Regions from separate parts of the Homo sapiens genome. Here all the other regions are reported to be linked to region 2. The links are microRNA targets in miRTarBase. Many come from high-throughput screens and were not tested one by one. Region 2 holds a microRNA gene; each other region holds the end of a gene's coding sequence.
Evidence for each region. Region 2 holds the annotated microRNA hsa-miR-6811-3p (AGCCUGUGCUUGUCCCUGCAG, at 2,468-2,488, opposite strand). A microRNA usually pairs through its seed, bases 2 to 8, with sites in the 3' UTR of a target mRNA and lowers its output. Matches are read on the target gene's strand: a 7mer-m8 pairs with bases 2 to 8, a 7mer-A1 pairs with bases 2 to 7 and ends in A, and an 8mer does both.

Region 1 (7,660 bases), not on the chromosome of region 2:
GCATGAGGGAGAGCAGCGAGCGGCAGCCACTCCTTCGCCGAGCCAGCAGGGCCATCTCCTGTCTGCCTCAACCACTACTGGACTCAGCCTTTCTCCCCCAGCAGTGACATCAAAATAGCCTATTTATAGGACATAACAAAGATGATGCCAGCTGTTAATAAAAATGTCCGCTAATCAGGCAGTTCACTTGCTGCAGTTTTTTGGGGTCCCAAGGGCCCAGCCCAGGCTCCTGTGCCCTTGGCCACCGTGGGCCAGTCCCTGGGGTCTTGTGGGAGCCTCCGCGGGCCTGGGAGTGGCAGGACCCTTAGAGGGCGAGAGTTCACATGAGAGCGTGGGGTTCTGACTCGCGAGGGTTCACGTGAGAGCGTGGGGTTCTGAGTCGCGAGGGTTCACGTGAGAGCGTGGGGTTCTGACTCCCTCGTGTCATTTCAGCCGCGGCGAGTCCTTTGCACATGTTGGCAACACACGCATCCGCATCGGCCTCCCTGCCCACAAAGCGCCACAACGGTGACCAGCCGGAGCAGCCGGAGCTGAAGCGGATCAAGACAGAAGACGGCGAGGGCATCGTCATTGCCCTGAGCGTGGACACGCCACCGGCAGCCGTAAGGGAAAAGGGTGTCCAGAACTAGCGACCGGGAGAGCTTTTCTTTAACGATATCAACTCTGTGGTGCCAAAAGGAGACGCGGCCTCCCGCCAGCACTCGGGGGTGCAGGGCCCTGTGGTTGGACTTCACCTCTCAGCACTGAAAACCCAAAACCCAGCTGGCCTTAACACTCCTTAAAGACAGAAGTCACACTTGAACAAAACCCACACACAACAAAACCTGATTTGGGAGACGGTGTCTCCACTGAGCACCTGCTGGGCTGAGCTTCTACCTACGAGTGAAACTCTGTCCTCCCGCGAGGACCAGGCATCGCTGTGTGAGGACGGCACGGCCAGCGCCTGCTGTGAGTGGGTCTCCCAAGACTAGGCCTCAGGACGCGGGGGGAGCCATCCCCGCCGCCCTCACAGGACCCACCAGGCAGCGGAGACATGTGGAATTAGAGTATTTTGAGGTGTCCTTTCTTTACAAAATAATGGGGTCTTGGGCATTTCACATCACTCCATTTCTACTGAGACTTTCAGAATCACACAGGCCCTTTCCGTGGATTTCATTTGGGGCAAAGAAACAACGTAGTTTTGTTTTTGTTTTCAGCCTATGGAATGATTTCCTTTTGTCTGTCTTGTTCAAGTTCAGACGAAGCTACTCTGGCATCTGCACATTTCCGTGTTACAGCAGCTGCCTGATGAATTTTATCCACCTCCATTTCAGCATGTGGCTCGCGTGGACAGGTGGACGGACGCTGTGGCCGCATGGAACCTTGAGAACCCAGGGACGAGCCAGTGCCGGGAAGGAACTGCCGGGACTCACCGAGCTGCACTTAACTGTTCTCTTTCTGGCTATTTTTTGTTGTTTGTTTCTTTGTGTTGACTTTGTCCCTGGCAAAATTTTCCACTCTGAGTAAAACAAGTCTCCTAAGTATTGTGTATGTTTAAAACGACAGAACCATTTCTACTTCATTTGGAAAAAGATTCAGTCTTTTATCACAGGCCCTTTTGAAACTCAGATCCCAGGTCTCTCCGTGGTATGTTTGTATTTGGGGTGTCCCTCCGGCTCTAGGCGGCCTCTGACCTGCTGTCTACTCCCCACCTTCGGTGAGCGGCCGCCATGGTGGAGCAGGGTCCGAGCCACGTCCTGCAGGGCACGTCTGGGGCATTTCCTGTTTTGTGGTAGGAAATGTCCCTGACCTTTCAGAACCGAACCCAATCCTGAGGCTGACTCCTCTACGGAAAATGAGGACAGGACGGGGGTGAGGGAATGAGAGTGGGAGGTCCCTGCACCTCCTCGCCCGGCTCCTCAGGAAGAAAACCGCTGGCCCTTCCCGAGTGTGCCGGCCGAGGGCCGAGGGCCGTGCACATGGGGAGAGGGCGTCAGCCTGATGGCTGAGCTTTTAAATGTCATCATCATAACATTATTTATTTAAATGTAGTTATTTTGGTATTTAATTTTTTTTTAGAGAGGAAAAAACCTGTATTTTCCTGGTGGGATGAAATAGGGATGAAATGGCTCAGAATGGTATATTTAGGCAATTTTAAAACATTTATTATTTACATAAAGACCAAATATGATGAATCTGTTCCGTGAATTGTGTCGGCCCTCAGCATGGGGCTGGGGCAGCGTCACTGCGGTGACGCCCATTGAAAGGTATGAAATGACTGCACACTAGCTGGATTATCACTCAGCCGTTTAAGAAATAAAAGCAAAACCATCACGTGACTGAGACCGTGTGTGTGACCGCAGCAAAGCGCAGCGTGTGGATGGATCAGAGCCCCTCGGTGCAGCTGTCTGCATCTTCCAAGCACTTTACAGATACCTTGGAATGTATATTTTTGTCTTCTTACTCAGAAGGTTTGCAGTTTGTAAAATAATCAGGATTCTGCTCTGTCCTGTGTGTGGGGTCAGCTCCCTCCACAGAGGGCTCCAGCTCTGTTGGTCACAGCTGATGGGGTTCTCTGATTGATAGGAGACGAGCTCTTGAGCTCTAAGGAACAGTGAGGTCGCCGGTGGGGAGCTTGGCTGGGACACCAAGCAAATGCATCGTATGTCCCCTTGGAGACGTTTTTATGCAGCTGTGTATGTTACTATCCAGAAGGAGTCGGGGGTAGACTTTCCCGTGTAAGCTCAGTCCATAAACTGGTTACTTCTGATCCTGGAACGTGGACTTCACATGATAGGTCTGGATCTGTTTCTGTTGGGATCACAGGTAAGGAAAATGTCCATTCAAATGGTAAAGAAGGGAGGAGGGTGTTTTTTTTTTTTTTTTTTGCCGTAGGCACCATTCTGCATCTTGAACCCAGACTGAAGTGTGCCTCTCACAGATGGAAGGTGCACACGCTCCTGTCTCCTCCTCACTCTGCCACGTTCACTTGGCTTTTTCATTGGTACCTAGGAATTTAAGAATATCGAAGCGAGAGCAGTAACAAACCATAGATGAGCAGACTCCCACACCGGGTTTTCTTGCCCGTCTTTAAGGCACTGTTTCTAAATTTTGAACTTAGCTCTGAATCCCCAAGAACTTGAGCACAGCAAGGGTTGCTGAGCTGCTGTCGCCGCAGCCCTGGCCCCTGGTGCTGGAGCTGCAGCACCTTTGGGAGAGGTCCTGCGTCGTCCTCAGCTGCGTCGCTGTGAACTCCCGCTCTCCACTGTGTTCCTCAGTGTCTGCTTTTCAGGAAGTCTGCTGTGACCTTTGCCCAACTTCTGAGCTCCTCAGGGACTAGGAACAATTTCAGTAGCTTTGCCCTGAACCAAACGAGAAAACAAAAGGGAACTCCCGTATGACCCACGTCACGTGGTGCACTCAGAGTGTGTGCGGCATGATCCTCGGTTGCTCCTCCTCTCACTTTAGTAGAGTACGCGGTGGACAGCTGATCTCCTTCAGTCGTCTACCCACTTCCGTCATTGTCCTCCGCTAGAATAACAGAGTAGTTGGTAGTCATGGCCAGAAGGGGGGTGGGGGCAGTGTGAGGACTTGGGGTTTCTGTGCTGTGTGACACAAGGAGATAAGTGACAATCTTGAAGTCCTAACTTCCACTATTCTAGAAAGTATAGTGGTGATTTGTGTGCAAAGATTTGAAGTTTTAAAAAAGTACCAAGTTCCTGAAATTCAATAAAATATTTTTATTAATTTTAATGGAATGCAGAGTATCATTTTCATTTTGATTGACTGACTTTTTACTTCATGCTCTCTTCTGAGCACACCGGAGGCCTAGCGCATTGGCAAGAACTTAACCAGGGAGCTGCACTGAGGACCAGCACTGCAGGCCCTGCCAGTGGGACAGCGGGTTGAGCGTGCAGGTAGAAAAGGCGCCGTGTCACAGGCAGTGGTAACAGGGTCTTGATTGATTGATCTATGATGTCGGAGTTTTAAAGTTACTTGGAGATTGTGGCTGCCACTATTTCTTCTGCAGACTTTCTCTCCAACCTGAGAATGAAGATCACTGCAAAGCATCTTGAGGGACATTTTCTCAGAAAATGAAAAAGCAGCTCTTGGCCGGCGCGGTGGCTCATGCCTGTCATCCCAGCACTTTGGGAGGCCGAGACGGGCAGATCATGAGGTCAGGAGATTGAGAACATCCTGGCTAACATGGTGAAATCCCATCTCTACTAAAAATACAAAAAAAATTAGCCGGGCGCAGTGGCGGGCGCTTGTAGTCCCAGCTACTCGGGAGGCTGAGGCAGGAGAATGGCGTGAACCTGGGAGGTGGAGTTTGCAGTGAGCCGAGATTGCGCCACTGCACTCCAGCCTGGGCGGCAGAGCGAGACTCCGTCTCAGAAAAAAAGAAAAAGCAGCTCTTCTGAAGAGGTACTTGGGTATTCAAGTTCCCACACAGGAACACTTTGATCTTCAGGCCCTGAAAATCTGGTGTGGATCGCTAATGTCTGGAATCGTGATGACATTATCAGTACTCACCCCAGGGTAGCAGAGGGAAGAAACCGTGCTGAAAATGACACAGAGGCCTTTGGGAGCTAAATGATGTTCACGGACAGAGAGTTCATAACGGAGTGTTTGTTTTATTCCTTACACTGATCCCCTAATTTAAAACAGTTCATACTGGCATAAAAGAACTGTTTATCACGCCCTGCGAGACTGCCTCTTCCAGCAAAGTGAAGCAGTCATTTGTAATTTGTTTCTGCCAGGTCTGCGTCTGCAGTGCACCCGGGCTGCGTTGATGGGTGCTGGGAAATTGTCACTGTTTGTTGCCCCCTTTCTGAGCTATGTCCACAGCAACACAAAATTACAATTCAGAGTGGGTCTCAAGTGACCTCTGATGACTAAACTGGCTACAAAGATTCCAGTGGACTCCTCCACCTGTGTCTCCTAGGGGTTATGACTAACTGTGGACCTAACAAACAGAGCAACTATCTCAGTCCTATGGAAAGTCAGTCGTATATAATACAGAACAGCAGGCAGACTAGAGCCAGAACAAGGACCGGTGTGATGGGTTTTTCCTGGGTTTTCCCCTCCCATTGCTGAGCCTAGTCCGTTGCTGGGCCTAGTCGGGGGCGGTCTATCCGAACTGCACATTAGGGATGAACATTAAAATCTCCAAGAGAAGCCCGCTTCCCTCTCATCCTGGGCAGAGACGGTCGTGGGAAACTCCTGCAAGCAGCAGCCCTGCAGACACTGGCGACTCCCACAGAGCCCTTCACGCTGGCGACTCCCACAGAACCCTTCACGCTGACGAGAGGAATTGGAAAACAGGCCCCTGTAGTCCAAAGAGCATGAGGGAAATCCCTGCTCCACTTTGGCCCCAAGCTGGACCTAGTCATAGGAATGGGAACAGCACAGAGAGGCTGAAACCTGGGCTTTTAAGTCAAAGGACACAGCAGAGGAGTTAAGAGACCCCCTAAAGCTCCACATGAATGGCACTGACGTGGGGAAAACAGCAAAGGCTATTTGAGCTCAACTCCTGTGTAGACTGGCCCCTGGGTGAACAGCACGACACAGACTTGGAAGACTAGCCTGACACCAGAGTCACAGCTCCAGGAGGCAGGCTGGCACATGCAATCAGAACATAACTGGGTTACTTGCCTGCTGAGACACAACTCAGCATCCTGCAGAGGGTTTCATGGACTTGGGAGTCTCAAGGTATGCCGAATGTCTAGAATACAAAATTACTAAACGTAAAAAGAGCCAGAAAAATCTCTGCCCTAAAGTGAAAAGACCGAATGCCAACTCTCACATGACCCAAATATTGGGAATATCAGATAAAGAACAGTTATTATAACCATGCTCTGTGAAATAAGGGCAAATGCTCTTGAATCAAAGAAATGAAAAAATTCAGTGAATAAACAGAAAAACATTTGGAAACAAAAATGAACTGGGACTTGTAGGACAAGATTGAAGGGTCTACTGTGTATGTCACTAGATTCCTATAAAACAGAGAAACAACGTATACAATTTTTTTTAAAGAAATATTTTAGTCCGGGTGGGCGCGGTGGCTCATGACTGTAATCCCAGCACTTTGGGCGGCCGAGGTGGGTGGATCACGAGGTCAGGAGATCAAGACCAGCCCGGCCTACATGGTGAAACCGCATCTCTACTAAAAATACAAAAATTAGCCGGGCATGGTGGCACACACCTGTAATCTCAGCTACTCGGGAGACTGAGGCAGGAGAATCGCTTGAGCCCAGGAGGCGGAGGTTGCAGTGAGCGCAGATTGCGCCACTGCACTCCAGCCTGGGCGACAGCGAGACTGTCTCATTTAAAAAAAAAAATACATATATATATATTTTTTTAATTTATTTTTATTTATTTATTTTTTTGAGACGGAGTCTCGCTCTGTTGCCCAGGCTGGAGTGCAGTGGCACGATCTCGGCTCACTGCAAGCTCTGCCTCCCAGGTTCAAGCGATTCTCCTGCCTCAGCCTCCGGAGTAGCTGGGACTACAGGCACCCACCACCACGCCCGGCTAATTTTTTGTATTTTTAGTAGAGACGGGGTTTCACCGTCTTAGCCAGGATGGTCTTGATCTCCTGACCTCATGATCCGCCCGCCTCGGCCTCCCCAAGTGCTGTGATTACAGGCGTGAGCCACCGCGCCTGGCCTATATATGTGTGTGTGTGTATATATATATATATATATTTTTTTTTTTTTTTTAATAAATACTTTAAAGATTCACGAAGGTGAGTGAATTCCAATAAGATCATCTCAAGGAAAACCATGTTGAGGCAATAAACTAAAGAAAAGACATTTTTTTTTTAACCTGGAAAGCAGCCAAAGAAAACTGACTTATCCAGGTTGAGTATTCCTAATCTGAAAACTCAGTAATCTAAAATCCGAAACTTTGAGTGTTGACACGATGCTCAAAGGAAATATTCATTGGAGCATTTTGGACTTCAAATTTTTGAATTAGGAATGCAGGGCGGGGCACAGTGTCTCATCCCAACACTTTGGGGGGTCGAAGTGGGAGGCTCACTTGAGCCCAGGAGTTGGAGACCAGCCTAGGCAACTTGGCAAAATCCTGTCTCTACTAAAAATAAACCAAGTGTGGTGGTGTGCACCTGTAGTCCCAGCCACTCAGGAGGCCCAGGCGGGAGGATCGCCTGAACCCAGGAAGCTGAAACTGGACTGAGCCGTGACTGCACCACCACACTCCAGCTTGGGCAATGGGAGTGAGACCTTGTCTCAAAAAACAGACAAACAAGGATGCTGAAATGGAAAGTACACTGCAAATATTCAAAAATAAAGATTAAAAAAATTGCATTCTGAGGCCGGGCGCAGTGGCTCACGCCCGTAATCCCAGCACTTGGGGAGGCCGAGGTGGGCAGATCACGAGGTCAGGAGATCGAGACCATCCTGGCTAACACGGTGAAACCCCGTCTCTACTAAAAATACAAAAAATTAGCCGGGCGTGGTGGCGGGTGCCTGTAGTCCCAGCTACTTGGGAGGCTGAGGCAGGAGAATGGCGTGAACCCGGGAGGCGTAGCTTGCAGTGAGCTGAGATCGCACCACTGCACTCCAGCCTGGGTGACAGAGCGAGACTCCGTCTCAAAAACAACAACAACAAAGTAAATGTAAAGCAAGCAGGCAACAAAATTGAAAAAAGAAATCAAAAT
Region 2 (7,700 bases):
CCTAGTGTTGACGTCAGGCGAGGTCTGCACTGTCAGGCAAAGCTACCACCGAGGGAAAGAGGGAAAGGCACTGGAAGGGAAGGCACGGGGGTAGGGGGACTGGGTGCCCAGCGACCAGTCCAGGGGTTTTCCCTTCCTTTCTTGGCCATCGGCCATCGAAGCTGCTTCCTGCAGAGCCTGCCGCGTCCTCTATGGAAGGCCTTGGTGAAACACCAGCACTCTGAAGGTTCACTCAATGAAGACCCCCAGAGGCCCACTTACTAGCTGGACAAGGTCTGCATTAGGCCCTGGCTGGGTCAGGTTTCAAAACATTAACCTTAAGCTTTTTTACCCTCCTTTTTTTTTTTTTTTTTAAAGGCACAGCTTTCCCAGTGTTTGTGTTCCTTGCTTGCGCCCTGTTTTAATGTTGTAGTTACAGGTGTCCAGCAGGGAGGAATGCAGCCCCTGTGGGCGCTTGGGGGAGCTGCTGGGAATCCAAGTTCAAGGAGCAGCTGTTTTCTGTTTTCTGTTGCCCCACAGCGCCACCTCCTGGCCCCTTGGTGGTGATGATTTTGAAGTCAGCAGGTTCTGGTGGGCCGTGTGAACTCCAGCAGCTCTGGGCTGAGCTGTGGAAACACTGCGTCCTTTGAAATAATACAGCTTCCTGAGCCCACCCCAGTCCCTAAAGACTGCCTCTGGGGTTGAGATTCTGAGATGCTTGACAGCATGGCTTTTCCCGGTGTTATGTGTCGTTTCTATCCTTAAGCCTGTTAGGGGTGGACTGGAGGCTGGACCAAGCTCCACTGGCTGCAGGAGGACCCTTCTGTGGGCTCCAGGCTGGCCGTGTGCGTGTGGGGAGGTGGGATTTGCTGCTAGGCTTCATGATCACTGTGAAGAAGCAGCCCCCAAGAATAGGGTGATAGGCCCTCCCCATGTCACCGGCCGTTCCTAGTCACATCTGTTGTTGCAGCATGTTATCAGTAGAGCCTCCTTTTACTCTTAAAAATGCCCTGGTTTGGATGATTGATCATACCTGCCCCCATCCCCACCCCACCACCCAAAAAGTGCAGCCACCCTGTGGTGTGCGGTGTACTGCTCCAGCGGTGCCTCTCCGTGGCCTCTGTCCTAAATTAAACGATGGGCTAAGATGCCTTGAAATGCCTGCAGCAGGCCCGGCGAGAGCTTGAATGCTCAAAGGTGTCTATGCCAACTTCTGCTTCTTCAATCAAACTTGAGGCTTTAAGAGACAGGCACGAATAAGGTGTCTCTCCAGAAGGAAGGCCTGGGGGAGACGCCTGGGCTGGGGCATGGTGAGGACGCCCCAATCCAGAAGCACAGCCTCTGCCCTGGACGTGCCCAGCTGCCGGAGCCAGGCGCTGCCTCGTGGCCCTGGAGAAACTCGCCTTGGTCTTGCAGATGGAGTCATCCAGGACACTGAGACCCCAGACACCTGGCTTGGTGGCGGCTGTCCCACCCGAATGCTTGGCCGGGCTTAGTGGCAGAAGCCTTGGACTCCAGGTAACAGGGACAAGGTGAGCTTTCTCAAAAACACTGATGGGTTAGCTCCCTTCAAACTCAAATGCAAAAGACCCCCCGGCATCCTCCCACCCTCTCCCTGAAAAGATCTCTTCCAAATGCCTTATGGGGGATCTTACAGGCGAACACATTGTTTAGTTTAAGCCTACTGCCTGGATTTCAAATTCATCATGAAATAAATACTTGGATTCAAAAGATGAAAACAACTGAATTACAACAGATTTCTCTAAATCTTGATAATCACCAGATTCATGTGAAATGTTTGTTGAAAAGAGAGAGCCTAGGCCCCAAACCAGATGTCCCAGGGAAGAAGGGCTTGGAAAACATGTAGTATTAACAAGCACCCTGGTGATTCAATCAGCAGCTGGGTTTCAGAAACTTGGCTTTGAGTTCTCAACTTACTTTGAAGATTTGAAAACAATATAATTTCAAATATTGGCAACTTCAGCAGCACCCAGGACTTCTGAGGTGCTCAGACCAGGCCAGTGGGATGCAGAGGTTTGCACCTCACATAAAAAGGAGCCAATTTCACAGGGCACAGTGGCTCACACTTATAACCCCAGCACTTCGGGAGGCTGAGGTGGGTGGATTGCTTGAGCCCAGGAGTTCGAGGCCAGTCTGGGAAACATGGTGAGATGCCTGTCTCTACAAAAATTAAAAAAAAAAAAAAAAAGCAGCCAGAAGCAGGAATTCACAGAGAGGCATGTGCATGCACACACATGTGCACACACACATGCACACACACACGTACACACACACATGCACACTCCAAAGGAACCTGCTTTAATATTCCTAAAATGCCTGGGAACAAAAAGCCGTTCTTACTCTCCACTCCTTACCTCCACCCTGCAGCCGCCCGTGGAGGGACCGGATGACCTTGGCACTTCCGAACCTCTTGAAGCGGGCTTTCACATGCTCATAGTACCACTCCAGTGAGCCGATCTTCACGACTCTGCAGGGACAAGCACAGGCTCATGGCACTGCCTGAGTGCTGTACACAGGCCTGCATAAATCTCACACACACACACACACACACACACGAGTGTGTGCATGTGTGCGTCCACCCTTCTTCAGCTAGCCCCATGGAAGGGACACGCCAGATCCAGAAACTATCAAGGTCATTTTACCTCAAGGCCTGGGCTCACCTGGCCAGATGGCAGGGGTCACAGATCCAGCCCTGCTCCTCCGGGTGGACGCGGCCACAGCTTTTGCAGGTGAAGAGGCCACATTCCAGGCACTGCCTTTTGCTATTCACAAGCAGCTGGTAGGGCTGCAGGCAGCGGGCGCAGTGGGTCTCGTTCAGATGGGCAGTGTCGGAAAGCAGCTCCCTCTTGGAGCTTTCCTTCTTAATCTTGCCCTTCAACGCCCTTGGGAAAATATCAGAAACAAGAAATATATTGGGCATCTTGTTTTTGCAACAGGCTTTAAGTGTGTACACGTACATACACACACACACAGACACAGACACATACACACACACAGTAACTGTCTCCTATGCAGAAAACAGTGACCCAACGTTGGGCAAAGCCACACAGGCATCTTTGTTTTGAGGGCTGAGCTCAAACGGGCAATTTTGGTGGCTGGAATGGAATGGAAACACGTTAATTTCATAGAAATGATATTGCATTTAAGCATTTCTGTGGCTGTTTACAATTGTACCAATTTTGGTTGGCAGGTCACTGCGCCCTCCCCAGGGCAGTCACAGAATCCTGGGGGCAAAGCCAGATGGTGTTTCCTGATCAAGCATTGTTTTGGTCTCCTTCAGCAGGGGGGCAAGAGTTGAGCTAACGCCCCAGGTTTGCTCCTCTAGAGCGCAGCTGAAATGGCTCGGTGAGTTTCCAGAGCAGGAATCATCTAGCACCCGGAAGTCTACAGTTCTCCTAGACCATCCGAGTTTAAATAACACAGCTTCCTGGTGAACCTGCCAAGTTGAACTGATTGGAAAGTGTATCCTTAGATGATAATGAACACATTTCTTTTGTTCTAGATTTCAGAGAATGTCTGCCAAACGTAATATTTTCAGTTTCAGATGAGATAAAATTAATCCATTCTTAGTGACAAAAACAAGAAGGACACTAGGTGCCATTGTCTTCTGAGAACTCTGAAGCACACTGATTTGGAGGCGGACACCCAGAGTGCAGCAAAGGTGAAGAGAGTGGAGGAGTCCCACCAGGCAGGGGGAGGCCACCTCCGGTTTCAAGTGCAATTGGCTGAACTTCACGATTTTCCTCTCTCCACTATTTACAAAAATGTTCACTGAGATGGACACGAAATCAGGCTCTTGTCATAGCTTCAAAAACCAAGAGAAAAAGGGTCAAGCAGTTGTAGGAATCTAGGGGGATACCGCCATCCACAGACTACAGTTTAGATAAAGCTGCATTGACAAGGTAAAGTCTTTGTCCCAAACAGAGGAGCACAAGTCCCTGGAGCCAGATGGGAAGGGCCTCACTCCCTCCATTTCCACCCTTGCCAGCTCTGCACCAACCAGAAAACCTGGAGGCCACCCCTTCGCTGGACAGGGCTTGTTAGCCTCTGTCCCAGGGAGAACCTCTTCTTCTGTATCCAGGCAGAACGGTACCCTGAGGGCCAGCACAGCAGGAAGAAAGACAAGGACATGTGTACTGCCCTGCATTCCAGGCTGGAGGAGTCCTCTTAAATAAGAGCCCAGAAGTGTCCTGGGGCAGCAGCTGGAGGCTGATATATTTCAGAGGCTGAAATTAGGGGAAAGGAGAACTGTACTGTGCTTTAGATTCTTTAAAACATAACTTCCCTTCTTCATAGCCAGAGACCAGGAAGGGAGGGCAGAGAAGACTCCATTTGGGGAGACCAAATGACATCTGCCAGCCACTCCAGGACGTATCAACAAGACCCGGAGCTTCCGATCCTGAGGAGTGAATGGGGCCAGAGCACTCCATGCACTCTGCTAATTGGGTTGACCAGAAGTCACTCCTCAACAGGCAAGAGCCCGGCACGTGGCTCCAATTTAAAGTTAGCTTCAGGAATAAAAGACCCTCCTGAATGTGACTTACCATCAGAAACAGACTCGAAACAAGTCAGCTTGGTGTGCTGAATGGGGCATAAGCAAGTACGTGCAGTCTCAATGAGAGGGACAGAGGAGACACAGGAGGAAACCAGGCTGAGATGGGAGCACCACCGGCTATGCTGGTGGAGGTGGAGAAGAACTGGTTAAGACAGAGATGGCGAGAAATCACAGCTCACAATGGAGGGGGAAATGGGCACAATTTCTACCGTGGAATATTAGATCCAATGATTTCGAAGAGTGGTCTTCAAAGTGTGGTCCAGGGACCTCTCTTCTGGAGGTTCCTAAGATCCTTTAGGGGGGTGAGTCACAAGGCCAAAGCTATTTTTGTAATAATGCTGAGACATCATTTGCCTTTTCTTTGCTCTTTGATGCCTGCACTGAAGGTGTAAAAACAATGGTGGATAAACTGCTGAGGCTTTAGCACGAGTCAGGGCAGTGGGCCCAACTGCTCTGACAGTCATTAGATCCTTCATTGAAAAAGAAATGAGCTGGGTGCAGTGGCTCACACCTGTAATCCCATCACTTTGGGAGGCTGAGGAAGGTGGATCACCTGAGGTAAGGAGTTCAAGACCAGCCTGGCCAACATGGTGAAACCCCGTCTCTACTAAAAATACAAAAATTAGCCAGGCACAGTGGTGGACACCTGTAATCCCTGCTACTCAGGAGGCTGAGGCAGGAGAGTCGCTTGAACCAGGGAAGCAGAGGTTGCAGTGAGCCGAGATTGTGTCACTGCACTCCAGCGTGGGTGACAGAGTGAGATTCTGTCTCAAAAAAAAGAAAAAGAAATGAGAAGAAAAAACAGTTTCATTAAAGAATCACCTTGATGAAACCCTAAAAGTTATGAGTCTTTTTGAACCGTGGCCCCCAGTCCATGTCTTTTGAGGATTCTGCCTGATGAGCTTGGAGGAGGACAGGAAGCTCTTGTGCCACGTGTTGAAGGTGACAGATATTTCTATTAAAAGGATTGGGCAATTGTTCCGATCGCCACCTGAGCTAGAAACTTTTCTTATGAAATAGCATTTTCACTTGAGAGAACAACAGAGAGATGAACTGTTTCGACTTGGGTACTTGGCAGATATTTTCTCAAAAATGAACAAAGTGCGACTCTCACTTCAAGGAAAAGAAGTGACAGTATTTATTGCCAGTAATAAAACGGAAGCTTTCAAGCACAAAGTAGAATTCTGGAAAACATATATCGCCTGCTGTGAGCTTGACAGTTTGCAACACTGGGAGACTTTTGATGAGGGTTTCCAACACCGGGAGACTTTTGATGAGATCGCTGGTGAGAGTAACAGAAGTGGTTCTCTTTTGGTGTGCATATGAAATGTGTCAACATTTGAGAAGTCTGCATCACTCAGTGAGCCGGTGTCTTCCAAATGATTAATGCATGGTGTTACAAAAATCACACAGGGGTAGAAAATCCACTTCAAGTGCAAGAGAGACCAATGGATTTGAACAAACAGAAAAGGAAAAGTTCATTAACATGGTTTCAGATTCCACATCACAACTAACCTTTAAGAAACTACCAACTGGCCGGGCGCAGTGGCTCATGCCTGTAATTCCAGCACTTTGGGAGGCTGAGGCAGGCAGATCACTTGAGGTCAGGAGTTTGAGACTAGCTCGGCCAATGTGGTGAAACCCTGTCTCTACTAAAAATGCAAAAATTAGCCAGACATGGTGGCACGCACCTGTAGTCACAGCTACTTAGGAGGCTGAGGCAGGGGAATCGCTTGAACCTAGGAGGTGGAGGTTGCAGTAAGCCGAGATTACGCTACTGCACTCCATCCAAGGGTGGCAGAGAGAGACTTTGTCTCAAAAAAAAAAAAAAAAAAAAAGAAAAAAAAAAGAAAAAGGAAAAAAACTACCAACTCCAACTGCCGGGTTTTCATGTTGTAACAACACATGATGTTAATTATTGTCTACAAAGGCTATTCAAGTACTCCTTTTTTCAATTATGTATCTGTATGAGCCTAGATTTTCTTCAAATACTACAGCCTAGAAAACATGTTACGACCCACTGAATGCAGAAGCAAGTGGAGAATTCACCCATCTTCTATTGTTCCAGATAAGGGAGGAGACCACCCCTCATATTGTCTTATGCCCAATTTCTGCCTCCAAAGAAAAAAGAAGTAAAAACTAAAAGGCAGAAATGAAATCCACAGGCAGACAGCCCAGCGCCACACCCTGGGCCTGGTAGTTAAAGATCGACCCCTGACCTAATCAGTTATGTTATCTATAGATTACAGACATTGCACGGAAAAGCATTGTGAAAATCCCTGTCCTGTTCTGTTCCATTCTAATTACTGGTGCAGGTGCATGTAGCCCCCAGTCACGTACCCCCTGCTTGCTCAATCGATCATGACCCTCTCACATGAACCCCCTTAGAGTTGTAAGCCCTTAAAAGGGACAGGAATTGCTCACTCGAGGAACTTGGTTTTTGGAGACGTGAGTCTGCCGATGCTCCCAGCTGAATAAAGCCCTTTCCTTCTACAATTCGGTGTCTGAGGAGTTCTTGTCTGTGGCTTGTCCTGCTACACAGACATTAAAGAGATTTGCAAAAGCAGAACAACACCACTCACCTTACTCACACTCTGATTTTGGGAAAATCTCATTTTTTATAAAAACTGTATTTATATTAACATGTAGGGGGTTTACTGTTATTTTTAAATGAGTGAATAAATAAATATTTTTAACTCCCAGTTTTAATTTCTGATGTGGTAAATATTAATAGATATGACCCATATGAATAAAACTCTTTGGGGTTCTCAGTAATTTAGGAAATGTGAAGGGGTCCTGAGGCCCAAAGGTTTGAGAACTGCTGATTTCGAAGTCAAGTTTGCTCTCCCTCCCAGAATGTGGAGAAAAGGGACTAAGCGATGGGAGACAGTGGGGAGATGATGGCAAAGGCCGAGAAAGTGAGCTCCCAGGGGAGACAGAGCCCTGGAGACGGGGATGCATGGGGGTGGAAGGGAAGTGCTGTCCTTGTCCTTGGGGCAGGGGACCCACATTACTGTCCTCTGCAGTCCCACCTCCAGAGGGCCCTGGGACACGCATGCCAGAGCTGTGACTGGTGGGGCAGAACAGAGCCAAGGGGGCACTCCTGTCCTCAAGGGAGGCCCGGCAGCCTCTGAAGAAAGGGCGT
Region 3 (7,000 bases), not on the chromosome of region 2:
GGGCCAAGATGGTTCTGTGCCTTGTGGATCCAGTGTGCACCTGCGGCTTCCTCAGCGAGCAGTAGACACGGGGAGGGCTGGAGTTTGCTTCTGGCCCCCTGAGGACAGGGTTCAGGCAGAGGCCTCAGGCAGGAGTCTTCAGGGACTGCCAGCCAACCTCACAGAAGCTGGAGAAAAGATCAGGTGGCCCTACAGCAAGTACCTAACCTTTTTGGCGCCTGGGACAGGTTTCACGGAGGACAGTTTTTCCGTGTTGGGGAGGAAGGTTTCGGGATGAAACTATTCCACCTCAGTTCATCAGGCATTAGATTCTCACCAGAGCGCAATCCAGATCCAAGTGCGCAGCTCACAGTAGGGTTCACGCTCCTATGGGAATCTGATGCCCAGGCTGATCTGAAAGTGGGTGGAGCTCGGGCAATCATGCTCCCTCACCTCGTCCTGTGCTGCCCGGTTCCTAACGGGCCACAAGCTGGTACTGGTCTGCACCTGGGGGTTGGGGACCCCTGCCCTATAGGACTGGCCTTGGTATACCCAGCTCAGGAAACAGAGCCCAGTGACTTCCTAGTTTCTCAGCCAGAGAGGCCCAGGCCCTGGACCCCAGAGCAAGCCAGGAGAGGGGGCAGAGGCGACTTAGGCCCGGACAGGTAGCCCAGGCCGCCAGGATCACGGGTCCTCCCCATGCTTGCTTCAAGAGTCCTGGAGTTTGTGATGCTGCACCTTAGCGAGACCCGAGCCATAGTTCTCCAGTTGCTTCTGCCTGTAGCAGTGCAGGGCCAGGAGGGGACACAGGAGGCCTTGCGTCACTACTGCATGGGGCCAAAGGGGGCCCGAGGGTGGCCCAGCACGGGCAGCATGGCTGCCGCCAGGAAGACCCAGAACGTGGAGGGGGTGCCAGGCTCCTGCCTAGACTCCAAGCCTGGTGTCCATGGGGCTGGCGGGTCAGCACTTCGGGCACAGCGGGGAGGCTGCATAGGCACCGCAGGCCCCATCTCTGGGCAGCTGTGGGAGACACACAGCTACCGGGAGGTGGACAGAGGCCAGCAAAGACCAGTGTGGGGCTCAGTGGTCCCCAGGCCTGGGCCGGGGCAGGCCCTTGGAGCCGTGGAGTCCTGAGGCCTGGAGTCGGGGGACCCAGGGAGCAGCCTCTGTTGGGGGCTGGTCTTCCCAAGAAGATCCCAGCCCCTCTTCGGGACAGAAGTGATGGGGCATCCTGGGGTGAGGAAGCTCCAGCTCCGGGATGAAGGGCGCCCCGTGCTCCCGGGCAGAGCAGCCGCAGGAAGAGGGGCCTGGAGGCCATGCTCCCGCGGGCCGCGGAATCCAACGCGGCCCGGCCGGCGACAGACACTACTGCCTTGTAGGAGAAGGACCTGCCCGGGGAGCCACCTGCACTCGGCTCACACTCCGCTCCCAGGACCCCCAGGTCCCTGCCCAGGCCACCCTCGGGTGGGCGCGGTCCGCGGGGCTGGACCCGCCCGAGCCGCCCTGACCTCAGGCCTCCGACGCTCCGCGCAAGAAGACAGAGTGCGCCCCGGCCCGCAGTCTGGGGTGTGGACACACGGCCAGGACGCGGACGGCGGGGCCTCGGCAGCAGCGCGGGGAAACAGCGGACCCCCAGCCCTGCGGGGAAAGGAAACCCCCCGCCCACTCGGCGCAGATCCCGCCTCACGCAGCAACTGCGCAGGCGCAGCCGATGATCCTCCGCGCACTCCCCAGCCTTTGTGCGCGTGCGCCTCACGTGACGTCACCGCCGCGCGGGGGCGCGCAGTCACCCTTCGGTCGCCAGGGGGCGCGGCCCCCCGCTCTCTCGCCGCTGACGGCGCATGCGTGCGCCCAGCTCCGCCTTTGCCTCCAAGGCTTTGCTGGCTTGTGCGGCATCCTGCTCCGTCTGCAGGTTGTGCTTCCGGTGCGGAGGTCAGGGACAAGATGGTGCCACCGGTGCAGGTCTCTCCGCTCATCAAGGTGATCCAGGCTTTGCAGCCGCCGCCCAGTGCTCTGGGCCCCCCCGTGTCCCGCCCCGCAGCTCCGACCCCGCGGGCTGCGACCCCCGGCCCCCGCCCCCATGATCCTCGCCCCGTGACCCTCGCCCGGCGACCGGACCCCCACCCCTCCTGCGACCTCTGCCCAGCGACCCCGCCCCCCCTCCTCCCGCGACCCCCGTCCCGCGAGCCCCGTTTCGCGCCGCCTCTGACCAACCTCTTTCGCAGCTCGGCCGCTACTCCGCCCTGTTCCTCGGTGTGGCCTACGGAGCCACGCGCTACAGTGAGTGACCGCGGGCGGGGCCGGGGCGGGGTCTGCTCGGCTTTCCTGTGGAGCTCCTGTGCTATTTGGAGAACTCCAGCTCTGGAAGGGGGCTTGGGACGCATGCGAGGCTGCAGGACCGTGTCCTCCACCGAGCGTGACCCCGATAGTGGAATCAGCTCACCCAAAGCTCAGGCTTCTGAGGCCCGGGCGGGGGACTCGAAAACGGCTGCTTCTTGGTGAAAACGGGTGCTAAATGGCTGTTCGAGTGCTGAGGTCTTGATGGGAGGCAGTCCCTGTTCGCAGAGGACGAGTGAGCCAGTGCGTGAGCGGGTGGGCAGCAGGGGCCCTGTAGCCTCTGGGTTGGACTCGTCAGGGTGAAGGTCAGGCGTTGACTCGCATTAACATAAAGAGCGGGAACAGCAGGTGCGTCTGGTTTACAGCGTCGCTGAAGATACCTTGACCTGTGGACTCAGTTCCTTTTGTACAGCATTTCCAGTGAATTTTATTCTCCTGCATTCCGCCAAACAGATTACCTAAAACCTCGGGCAGAAGAGGAGAGGAGGATAGCAGCAGAAGAGAAGAAGAAGCAGGATGAACTGAAACGGATTGCCAGAGAATTGGCAGAAGGTACGAGTGACACTGGCTCTTATAGATTGTCCCTCCCAGGTTTGTGCAGGGATAAGGAAAATGGAGGAGGACATTTAAGCAGAGCTAAGTAGATGCGGATTGTTTAAAAATGGGGAAGCTGGCCAGGCGTGGTGGCTCATGCCTGTATCCCAGCACTTTGGGAGGCCAAGGCGGGCAGATCACCTGAGGTTAGGAGTTCAAGACCAGCCTGACCAACATGGTGCAACCCTGTCTCTACAAAAATTAGCCGGGCATGGCCCGGTGCGGTGGCTCATGCCTGTAATCCTAGCACTTTGGGAGGCTGAGACAGGCAGATTGCCTGAGCTCTGGAGTTCGAGACCAGCCTGGGCAAGATGGTGAAACCCCATTTCTACTAAAATACAAAAAATCAGCCGGGCATGGTGGCAGGCACCTGTAATCCCAGCTACTCAGAAAGCTGAGGCATGAGAATTGCTTGAACCCGGGAGGCGGAGGTTGCAGTGAGCTGAGATCACGCCACTGCACTCCAGCCTGAGCAGCAAAGTGAAATTCTGTCTAAAAAAAATTAGCCAGGCATGATGGCGGGTGCATGTAATCCCAGCTACTCAGAAGGCTGAGGTGGGAGAATCGCTTTAACCTGGGATGCAGAGGTTGCAGTGAGCTGAGATTGCGCCATTGGGTGACAGAGCGAGACTCCGTCTCAAAACAAAAAAAAAAAAAAAAAAAATAACTGGGAAGCTGAAGTGGTCTTTTTAGGTTGCCTGAGTGGTAACATGTGCTTTTCTTCTAACCTTCCGGCCCAAGATGACAGCATATTAAAGTGAGTGACCCTGCGACCCACTCTTTGGACCAGCAGCGGATGAATAAAGCTTCCTGTGTTGTGTGATACTCCGGCTCCTCATTTGCTGTCGCTGGTTGTGGAATTCCTAGGTTGAAGTTCTGTCCACCTCCCAGTTCACGTGAGGTGGAAGACAGGGAGGGGGTTTCAAAAGAATCCACATTACCATTCACAGACCCAGAATGCATCATGTAAACACAGTGGGAAGGACAGATGCGCGCTGCCTGTTCTGTCTGGGGCATCCAGGTGGGGAGCCCCAAAGGCCGTCTGTAATGGAGTCAGTCAGCTGGGGGCCTCATGAGTACTGGGGTTGTCTTGATTCTGAGTTCTAGGCTGCTGCTCTCAGCAGCCCAGACCCCTGGATGGGGAGGGGTAGGCACTGACTGACGCCCTTACAGTTGGGAAGCTGGGTCCTCCTCCACAATAACCCCTCGCCCCAACCTGCCATTTCACAAATCCTCCCTTTGATCCCAGGAAGTGGCCAGGTCAGACTTGGGACTAAAAGTCTGGTGATGTGACCTCCTGAGCACAGGGCCTGAGTGCTGTTTGAGTTGTGCAGGGAGGTGGTCTTGTGGTGCCTGAGCCACTTCCCTCCCCAGCAGGCTTCCTGGGCTTCTCGCCCCTCCTGGCTGTGAGCTTGCCAACAACCCAAACCCTTGGCCTGGTGGTTTGCAATGGACAGATTGAATTTGCTACTTCCCAGTTATGTGCCTTGAGCAAATCTAGGCTTGGAGCCCCAGTTTGTAAAATGAGTTCGTTTGCAAATATAAGGCCAAAGGGAGAAGCAGCCTATAAGCTTTTCAGGACATTTGGTTAAGGTGAGCTTTGAGTGAGCAAGATACTTTCACATCCTGTCCTGGCGTCCAGAGGGGCTGTTTGCAGGATCCCTCAGAACCTCTTAAGAGCCCCTCATCCCAGACCCAGGCTCTGGATACCAGGGGTCTCTGACCAGTGAGATGAAAAGGCTGGGCACGGTGGTTCACACCTGTAATCCCAGCACTTTGGGAGGCCAAGGTGGGCAGATCACTTGAGGTCAGGAGTTCAAGACCAGCCTGGCCAACATGGCGAAACCTTGTCTTTACTAAAAATACAAAAATTAGCTGGTTGTGGTGATGGGTGCCTGTAATCCCAGCTACTCAGGAGGCTGAGGCAGGAGAATTGCTTGAACCCGGAAGGTGGAGGTTGCATTGAGCCAAGATCACACCACTCCACTCCAGGCTGGGTGACAGAGTGAGACTGTCTCAAGCAAAAAACCCAGCACCCCCTTCCTGCAGCCCCATGGCTGTGCTGGGCATGTCTGCTGCTCTCCCACGCCCACCCCAATGAGCCCATCTAGTTAAGCGTCATCTAGTGTTGGGAGCAAATGCCTTGGAGCTCACATCATGAGTTGAACATCCTGAATTTAACATAATACCGATTTCAACTGGGAAGTCCGTTTCTTTGCCTCTGTCCTTCACTCCAGGCTCACCAATATTTAATCATGGGGGTGCACGGGCTTCGGCATCCAGCCCTGCACTGCCCTCCTGGTGCCGTCTGGGGCCATCAGAGCCACTCTACATGGTGTTTATTACAGATCATTTCCGCTCAGACCACTGAAGTTGGATGGCCGCTTTACTCATGGCCTTGACCTCTCTGGCAGAATTTTCTGATGGGTCAAATGTAGTGTGGCTTCCGCTATCATTTTACCACAGATAATGGGCAAGTAGTTTTCTGTTTATTTTATTCTGAATTCCTGAGCATGTGTGTTTTCCTAAACTGGATGAGAAACGGCCTGTGTCCATCTGTCTACCTGTGTACACATATGTACATGTGTGGCTGCAAATGTTCTCAGTGATTTCAGAGTTCATGGACCCTTTTCAAAGGTCTCCCAGTGGTAACTATCCAAAAATGGATGAGTAATGTAGGCTACAGTTTATTCACAGTTGGCTTCAGTTTATAAAAACAGGCTGGGCGTGGTGGCTCATGCCTGTAATCCCAGCACTTCAGGAAGCTGAGGCGGGTGATCACCTGAGGTCAGGAGTTCGAGACCAGCCTGCCCAATATGGTGAAACCCCATCTGTACTGAAAATACAAAAATTAGCCATGTGTGGTGGTGGGCGCCTGTAGTCCCAGCTACTCAGGAGGCTGAGGCACGAGAATCGCTTGAACCTGGGAGGTGGAGGTTGCAGTGAGCTGAGATCGTGCCACGGCACTCCAGCCTGGGTGACAGAGCAAGACTCCATCTCAAAAAAAAAAAAAAAAAAAAATTAAAATATCCAGAATGATCTTCAGTCATTTTCTTGGGCTTCCTAACCTCTTGTAGCAAATAGCCACAGGCAGAACCCAAATCCTAGTGGGTGAAGATTGAGGGAGCCATAGGGTCCCCATGGGACCAGTGCTCACAGGATACAGCAGGTTGAAGACTTGGGTGCTGGGCCGCCATTGCAAATTTCTGTGCCTACTGCAAGAGAAGACAGAAGATGGTGAGTGGAACCACCTGTGCACACCAGCCCTATTCCTTCCCTCCTGCCTGGTGTGACCTCTACCAACCCCTGCAGGAGGAAGGACAGCACCTGGGTCTGTGACCAGCCCAAGCCGATTAGCTGGGCTGAGCCTTTCTTAGTGCTTTAGCCTCTGTTGACACTGTGCCCTGATTATGCTCATCCTGGCCTTCCATAGTCCTGAAGTCGCCTTGTTTATGTAGCATAGGATAGCGGGAATAGCATGGGGTAGGGGGATAGCATGGGGTAGGGGAATAGCATGGGGTAGCGGGAATAGCATGGGGTAGCGGGAATAGCATGGGGTAGCGGGAATAGCATGGGGTAGCGGGAATAGCATGGCGTAGCGGGAATAGCATGGGGTAGGGGAATAGCATGGGGTAGCGGGAATAGCATGGGGTAGCGGGAATAGCATGGGGTAGCGGGAATAGCATGGGGTAGTGGGAATAGCATGGCGTAGCGGGAATAGCATGGGGTAGCGGGAATAGCATGGGGTAGTGGGAATAGCATGGGGTAGCGGGAATAGCATGGCGTAGTGGGAATAGCATGGGGTAGTGGGAATAGCATGGGGTAGGGGAATAGCATGGGGTAGCGGGAATAGCATGGGGTAGGGGGATAGCATGGGGTAGGGGAATAGCATGGGGTAGTGGGAATAGCATGGGGTAGGGGAATAGCATGGGGTAGCGGGAATAGCATGGGGTAGTGGGACTAGCATGGGGTAGTGGCAGCAGCATGGAGTAGTGGGAATAGCATGGGGTAGTGGGAGCAGCATAGGGTAGGGGAATAGCATGGGGTAGCGGGAATAGCATGGCATAGCGGGAATAGCATGGGGTAGGGG
Region 4 (7,700 bases), not on the chromosome of region 2:
GAGAAACTATTTAAGATGGATGAAGCAAGTGCCCAGCTCCTTGCTTATAAGGAAAAAGGCCATTCTCAGAGTTCACAATTTTCCTCTGATCAAGAAATAGCTCATCTGCTGCCTGAAAATGTGAGTGCGCTCCCAGCTACGGTGGCAGTTGCTTCTCCACATACCACCTCGGCTACTCCAAAGCCCGCCACCCTTCTACCCACCAATGCTTCAGTGACACCTTCTGGGACTTCCCAGCCACAGCTGGCCACCACAGCTCCACCTGTAACCACTGTCACTTCTCAGCCTCCCACGACCCTCATTTCTACAGTTTTTACACGGGCTGCGGCTACACTCCAAGCAATGGCTACAACAGCAGTTCTGACTACCACCTTTCAGGCACCTACGGACTCGAAAGGCAGCTTAGAAACCATACCGTTTACAGAAATCTCCAACCTAACTTTGAACACAGGGAATGTGTATAACCCTACTGCACTTTCTATGTCAAATGTGGAGTCTTCCACTATGAATAAAACTGCTTCCTGGGAAGGTAGGGAGGCCAGTCCAGGCAGTTCCTCCCAGGGCAGTGTTCCAGAAAATCAGTACGGCCTTCCATTTGAAAAATGGCTTCTTATCGGGTCCCTGCTCTTTGGTGTCCTGTTCCTGGTGATAGGCCTCGTCCTCCTGGGTAGAATCCTCTCGGAATCACTCCGCAGGAAACGTTACTCAAGACTGGATTATTTGATCAATGGGATCTATGTGGACATCTAAGGATGGAACTCGGTGTCTCTTAATTCATTTAGTAACCAGAAGCCCAAATGCAATGAGTTTCTGCTGACTTGCTAGTCTTAGCAGGAGGTTGTATTTTGAAGACAGGAAAATGCCCCCTTCTGCTTTCCTTTTTTTTTTTTGGAGACAGAGTCTTGCTTTGTTGCCCAGGCTGGAGTGCAGTAGCACGATCTCGGCTCTCACCGCAACCTCCGTCTCCTGGGTTCAAGCGATTCTCCTGCCTCAGCCTCCTAAGTATCTGGGATTACAGGCATGTGCCACCACACCTGGGTGATTTTTGTATTTTTAGTAGAGACGGGGTTTCACCATGTTGGTCAGGCTGGTCTCAAACTCCTGACCTAGTGATCCACCCTCCTCGGCCTCCCAAAGTGCTGGGATTACAGGCATGAGCCACCACAGCTGGCCCCCTTCTGTTTTATGTTTGGTTTTTGAGAAGGAATGAAGTGGGAACCAAATTAGGTAATTTTGGGTAATCTGTCTCTAAAATATTAGCTAAAAACAAAGCTCTATGTAAAGTAATAAAGTATAATTGCCATATAAATTTCAAAATTCAACTGGCTTTTATGCAAAGAAACAGGTTAGGACATCTAGGTTCCAATTCATTCACATTCTTGGTTCCAGATAAAATCAACTGTTTATATCAATTTCTAATGGATTTGCTTTTCTTTTTATATGGATTCCTTTAAAACTTATTCCAGATGTAGTTCCTTCCAATTAAATATTTGAATAAATCTTTTGTTACTCAGTAGTGTTCTCATAAGTAGCATGTCCAGCTGGATAACTTTCCATTTATTTCCACTAGCAAAATGATTATGTGGTGAAAATATGCGTTCCACGTTAAAATGACAACCCCCCCTTTTTCCCATCAGTGAGCAAAGAGCTTCACTTGGGAGAATCTAGCGGAATGTTAGCCCACATGGAGACAATGATAAGTCAGTTCTGATAAATGGCCATATCCACTTGGGATCTGTTCTAGTTAACTTGTGTGTGTGTGTGTGTGTGTGTGTGTGTGTGTGTGTGTGTGACAGAGTCTTGCTCTGTCACCCAGGCTAGAGTGCAGTGGCGCGATCTCGGCTCACTGCCAGCTCCGCCTCCTGGGTTCCCGCCATTCTCCTGCCTCAGCCTCCCAAGTAGCTGGGACTACAGGCGCCCGCCAACACGCCCAGCTAATTTTTTATATTTTTAGTAAAGACGGGGTTTCACTGTGTTAGTCAGGATGGTCTCGATCTCCTGACCTTGTGATCCGCCCGCCTCGGCCTCCCAAAGTGCTGGGATTACAGGCGTGAGCCACCGTGCCCGGCCTCTAGTTAACTTTTTAAAGAAGTATTATAGACATTTTCTAAACTTGTACTAAGTTAAAAATGTACCACTATTATTTTATATCCTTACTTAAATTGACCAGCAATCAGTCTAAGCTTAATTTAGAACAACATTGGAAATAATAACTAGCACAGGCCAGGCGCGGTGGCTCACGCCTGTAATCCCAGCACTTTGGGAGGCCGAGATGGGCAAATCACGAGGTCAGGAGATCGAGACCATCCTGGCTAACACGGTGAAACCCCGCCTCTACTAAAAATACAAAAAATTAGCCGGGCGTGGTGGCGGGCGCCTGTAGTTCCAGCTACTTGGGAGGCTGAGGCAGGAGAGTAGTTTGAATCCAGGAGGCGGAGGTTGCGGTGAGCCAGATTGCACCATTGCGCTCCAGCCTGGGCAACAGAGCCAGACTCCGTCTCAAAAATAATAATAATAATAACTAGCACTAACATGATGCTACAATTTTTACTGGTTACCAATTAAAATTTCTGAGAAAGGCTTTTAATAAAGTTTTCCAGACAAGTTATAGGTGAGGTAACAAAGAGTCCAGAAGTCCCCTGGGTCAGTTTGATACCTCTTTCCTCTGGACTTCAATTTGCTTATCTGCAAAACAGGAAATTTGATCCCTTCCAAGTGTCACCAGAGTTTTTAAAGATAAAAATGGAATTCAGATGCGAACTTAATACAGTGAGCACTAGAGGGCAGTAGCTGGTTAATAAGTACAGCAATTAAGACAAATGCAGGAAATGACAGAAAAGGCTTTTCTTCTCCTTCCTCCTCACCTCTTCCTTCCTCCTCACCTCCTTCCCCTCTGCTCTTCTGGTACCCCTCCCCCATTTCCCTGGTTTACACTAAGTTCATAAAGTACATTAAGAGGAAAGCTGGTCTATTGAAAATACTACTTTTCTTATATTTTCCAACTTAACAGCTTGACACAAATCTCCAAGGGGTTTACATAAGCTTTAAGTAGGCTGAATAAATAAAACCTTGAGTCAATTTAACTTAACAAGTATTTATTGAATATCCACATGTAGGCCAGAATCAGATTAGTAACCAGGTGCCTTGGAATTTTAAAATTTCTCCTCTCTTTATTAATGGATTTAGCGAGTGGAAATCAGGCTTTCTGTGATGGTTTATAAAGGTATTTTCCTGGCTCTCTTGGAGTTCTCTGTCCACCTTGCTGCAGTCTTTGTTGTGATGGGGAGACCACATGGGAGCGGTCCAGATGAGTGATGCTACGGGCCCAAACTGTTAGTGGCCGTGAGGATATAGGTTGTAGGGGACATCTGGAGTGGAAAGAGTGCTCTTCTCACACAGCTCTCTCTACTTACTGCCCCTAGGATGGTGGGTGCAACTGTGGCAAGGGCAGTCAGGGTAGGGGAATCCCTTAGAGGAATTCAGCAGTGACTAGTCTGGTTAGCCTTTCCCACAAGGCCCATTGAGTTATGAGCCCCCTCCTTTGGTTTGTAGAAAGAGAAGGTAGCAGCCTAGAACAGGTGAGAAGATGAGGTAGGTCCTTCTGCTCAAACATCCTCTCTCCGTATTTTACCAACACGATACTGACCTAGGTTAAAAAGCTACTCTTGGCCAGGCGTGGTGGCTCACGCCTGTAATCCCAGCACTTTGGGAGTCCAAGGTGGGTGGATCACCTGAGGTCAGGAGTTCTAGACCAGCCTGGCCAACATGGTGAAACCCCATCTCTACAGAAATACAAAAATTAGCCAGGCATGGTGGCAGACACCTGTAATCCCAGCTACTTGGGAGGCTGAGGTAGGATAATTGCTTGAGGCCGGGAGGGGGCGGTTGCAGTGAGCCAAGATCGCTCCATTGCACTCCAGCCTAGGCGACAGAGCAAGACTCTATCTCAAAAAAATAAAATAAAATAAAATAAAAATAAGCTACTCTTAGCCAGGCACATAGTGGCTCACATCTGTAATCTCAGCCCTTTGGGAGACTGAGGTGGGAGGATCACTTGAGCCCAGGAGGTCGAGGCTGCAGTGAGCCATGATCACGCCACTGCACTCCAGCCTGGGCGACAGAACGAGAGCCCATCTCAAAAAAAAAAACAAAACAACAACAACAAAAAAAAAACTAAAAAACTCTTAAAAAACCTGAGGACTCCTGGATGAATACTGTTATGTGCCTGTTTCTCAATTACCCCTGGCCTGAGTGAGGAACTTTTGGAACTCTTTGGCTCCCAGACTGTGGTGGGCACTACCGGTCAGCTGCCCAGCAGCCAGCCCTAGTCCCACTTCTGCCTCATTTGTTACAGGTTGGAAGTGCCAGGTTCAGGGATGGGCCTGTGACCCAAGTTTTAGCTGAAAGGAAACCTACTAGGGACTTCTAGGAGAGATTTTCTTGCTTGTAAAGGGAAGGCTGCACAAGGAGAAAAGCCCTTTCTAACCACATCCCCTTATTTCATGCTTGGGATGCTGACCATGTGAAGACTTGGTTGTTGGAGCTGTGGTGGCCTCCCTGCCATGATGAGGGGAGAAGGCACTGCCACACTGAGCGTGGCAGTGGGTACAGGAAGAGTCCAGTCTCCGGGATGCCTTGGTTAATTGACAGGACAAACCCTGGAACTGCCAACTTCCATCTTGTTCTGTAATAATAAATCTCTAATATTTGTACCACTTTCAGTCGAGTATTCTATGATTTATTACTTATTGATAGCAAACACTTAGAAAGTACTTACACTATGGGCCGGGCACAGTGGCTCACGCCTGTAATCCCAGCACTTTGGGAGGCCGAGGCGGGTGGATCACCTGAGGTCAGGAGTTCGAAACCAGCCTGGCCAACATGACGAAACCCCATCTCTACTAAAAATACAAAAATTAGCTGGGCGTGGCGGGGGCAGAGTTTGTAGTGAGCCAAGATTGCACCCCTGCACTCCAGCCTGAGCGACAGAGCAAGACTCCACAAAAGAAAGTACTTACACTATGCGCCAGATTCACTTTTACATATACTAACTCATTTCAATTCCACAACAACCTTTTGAATAATTTTAATCCTTATTCTGTAGATAAGGAAACTGAGACACAGCGAAGTTTAAGGGCCTTTCCAGAGGTCACTTGCCCAGATAGCCTGGCTCCGGAGTTGCCACTTTTTACATTCTTATAACTGGAATGATACACGGTGTAACCAAAAAGAGGTTTGCACTAGATTGGAAATGTTCTAGAAAGCTTTTTGTTGTTGTTTTTGTTGTTGTTGTTTGAGACAATTTTGCTTTGTCACCCAGGCTGGAGTGTAGTGGCGCAAACACAGCTTACTGCAGCCTCCAACTCTCGGGCTCAAGTAATCCTCCTGCCTCAGCCCCCCAAGTAGCTGGGACTACAGGCATGTGCCACCACGCCCAGCTAATTTTTGTATTTTTGTAGATACAGGGTTTTGCCATGTTGGCCAGGCTGGTCTCAAACCCCTGGACTCAAGCAATCTGCCCATTTCAGCCTTCTGAAGTGCTGGGATTACAGGCATGAGCCACCATGCCTGGCCCTAAATAGCTTTTATTTTTATTTATTTATTTAGAGACAGAGTTTTCTCTTGTCGCCCAGGCTGGAGTGCAATGGCATGATCTTGGCTCATTGCAACCTCTGCTCCTGGGTTCAAGCGATTCTCCTGCCTCAGCCTCCTGAGTAGCTGGGATTATGGGTGTGCACTACCATGGCCAGCTAATTTTGTATTTTTAGTAAAGGAGATGGGGTTTCACCATGTTGGCCAGGCTGGTCTTGAACTCCAGACCTCAGGTGATCTGCCCGCCTCAGCCTCCCAAAGTGTCGAGATTACAGGCATAAGCCTGCCCCTAGATAGCTTTTTATTTTGGTTTTTAGACGGCATCTTGCTCTGTCACCCAGGCTGGAGTGCAGTGGCACGATCTCAGCTCACTGCAACCTCTGCCTCCCGGGTTCAAGCAATTCTCCTGCCTCAGACTCCCAAGTAGCTGGGATTACAGGCACCCACCACCACACCCAGCTAATTTTTTAATTTTTTTGTAGAGATGGGGTTTCACCATGTTGGCCAGGCTGGTCTTGAACTCCTGACCTCAAGTGATCCACCCGCCTCGGCCTCCCAAAGTGCTGGGATTACAGGTGTGAGCCACTACACCCAGCCTAGATAGCTTTTAAATGGTGTTGAGCCGAATGATACCTTGAGCCGAAAGCATGGAAATGAAGAGGTCAGTGGTCTCATTCTGGAGTGGGCTTCATACACTTTCCCAGTTGCTGATCACCTGTACCAAAGTTAAGAGTGACTCCTCAGGGACACGCCGGAGCAGAGAACCCATCCTGTTTCCGTGTCCTGTCATCTGGGTTAATAGTACCGCCAGCCACCCAGTATCTCCTGTATTGAGCAACTTCAAAGTCATACTCTGTTTCTCCTGCTGCCTCAGCCTCCACATCCAATGTCTACCAAATATTACCTATTGTCTTTCAAAGACGCCTCTCAAAGTCAGCCGTCCCCACTGCTGCCTCCTGTTTGGTCTCCCTAACTTGCTTCTCCTTGCTCTGCTCCCACATCATATATTCCCTCCTTACGACTTCAAGTTACATTAAAAGCACAGCACACAGTACATGTAACTCCACGCATGACACTCTGTGCTCCCAGTACCTCTAGGGATGATTACCAGTTGCACGTGGCAGGTGTACCAAGGCTCCCCATGCACTAGCCCCAACCTAACCACACTGCAGCTACCTCTGTCCCGTGAAACCTGGGCTGTAGCTACACCACCCTTTTCAACATTTCTCAGTATTGCCAGACACTTTGACGAGCCATCCTCTTCCCTCTACTTGTAAATTCCTTTCCCCCTTGTTCACTTGGCAAATTTCCGCTCATCCTTCAAGACCACGATCACACGTCACCTCCACCAGAGTCTCCCCACACTCTCCCGGGAGACGTATCAATTCCTCCTGGGTTTCTGACACAGCTCGTGATTTATACCATTAGTGAAACACTTCCATGGAATCATAATGTATCAGGTTATATATTACCCCACTAGACTGGGATACGTTAGACAGCAACATTTCTCTGATTCCATCATGCTTAACAGTGTGTCTGGCACATAGGCATTCAATAAGTGATCATGAGTGAATTTTATAACCCGTTCATTGAAGGTCATTTCTTTCAGCAATGGGCAGTAATGTGATTTGGCTGCATACAGAACAGCTTCTATATCATGCAGTGAAAGTGAACGCACTGACGTGCATTTTGTAGCAGAATGGGATAAAATCCAGGTACACAGTAATGAAGTGTATACTCTCACTTCAACTAAGACCGTGTGCAGAGGGATGGGTAGATAAGTATTTGATTTTGTTTATTTCTCTCCTTTGGGTTCAGATAGTATAGTTTCCTTAGCCTATAGAGAGGATGAGCTGACAGAATGTGCTTTTGTTTGTGTTCTTATATTTTTGATTATTTTCCCTTTCTTTCTTTCCTTCTTTCCCTTGCTTTCTCTCCCTTCCTTCCTTCCTTCCTTTCTCCCTTCCCTCCCCTCCCTCCCCCCTCCCCTCCCATCCCGCTCCCCTCCCCCTCCTCTCCCCTCCCATCCCCCTCCCTTCCCCTCCCCCTCCCCTCCCCCTCCCCTCCCCTCCCCCTCCCCTCCCCCTCCCCTCCTCCTCCCTCCCTTC

Region 1: miRTarBase lists FOXK2 as a target of hsa-miR-6811-3p. Seed matches in the 3' UTR shown: 7mer-m8 at 1,132-1,138 and 7mer-m8 at 1,587-1,593.
Region 3: miRTarBase lists PDE6B as a target of hsa-miR-6811-3p. Seed matches in the 3' UTR shown: 7mer-A1 at 5,649-5,655 and 7mer-m8 at 5,455-5,461.
Region 4: the mRNA of MANSC1 is a reported target of hsa-miR-6811-3p. Seed matches in the 3' UTR shown: 7mer-A1 at 1,015-1,021, 7mer-A1 at 1,148-1,154 and 7mer-m8 at 2,218-2,224.

What each region holds. Positions count from the first base shown.
Region 1 is chr17:82,600,871-82,608,530 of GRCh38, forward strand. It overlaps FOXK2 (forkhead box K2), which reads left to right. Exons shown (of 9, transcript NM_004514.4): 9 at 433-3,732. The coding sequence ends at 629. Among named protein-coding and RNA genes, the nearest start is that of FOXK2-AS1, 16 kb to the left of the region's middle. RefSeq lists a silencer at 2,152-2,261.
Region 2 is chr2:237,505,756-237,513,455 of GRCh38, reverse strand. It overlaps MIR6811 (microRNA 6811), which reads right to left and starts at 2,525; the gene lies at 2,468-2,525. It overlaps MLPH (melanophilin), which reads right to left. Exons shown (of 16, transcript NM_024101.7): 3 at 2,661-2,882; 4 at 2,355-2,467. RefSeq lists enhancers at 1-172, 173-673, 2,054-2,554, 2,555-3,055.
Region 3 is chr4:669,171-676,170 of GRCh38, reverse strand. It overlaps PDE6B (phosphodiesterase 6B), which reads right to left. Exons shown (of 22, transcript NM_000283.4): 22 at 5,389-6,125. The coding sequence ends at 6,064. It overlaps ATP5ME (ATP synthase membrane subunit e), which reads left to right and starts at 1,895. Exons shown (of 4, transcript NM_007100.4): 1 at 1,895-1,959; 2 at 2,205-2,259; 3 at 2,770-2,868; 4 at 3,652-3,735. The coding sequence starts at 1,924. The coding sequence ends at 3,671. It overlaps MYL5 (myosin light chain 5), which reads right to left and starts at 1,629. Exons shown (of 9, transcript NM_002477.2): 1 at 1,488-1,629; 2 at 1-98. RefSeq lists enhancers at 1,059-1,128, 1,006-1,763 and a silencer at 1,339-1,608.
Region 4 is chr12:12,323,077-12,330,776 of GRCh38, reverse strand. It overlaps MANSC1 (MANSC domain containing 1), which reads left to right. Exons shown (of 4, transcript NM_018050.4): 4 at 1-4,721. The coding sequence ends at 750. Among named protein-coding and RNA genes, the nearest start is that of MANSC1, 23 kb to the left of the region's middle. RefSeq lists an enhancer at 4,970-5,470.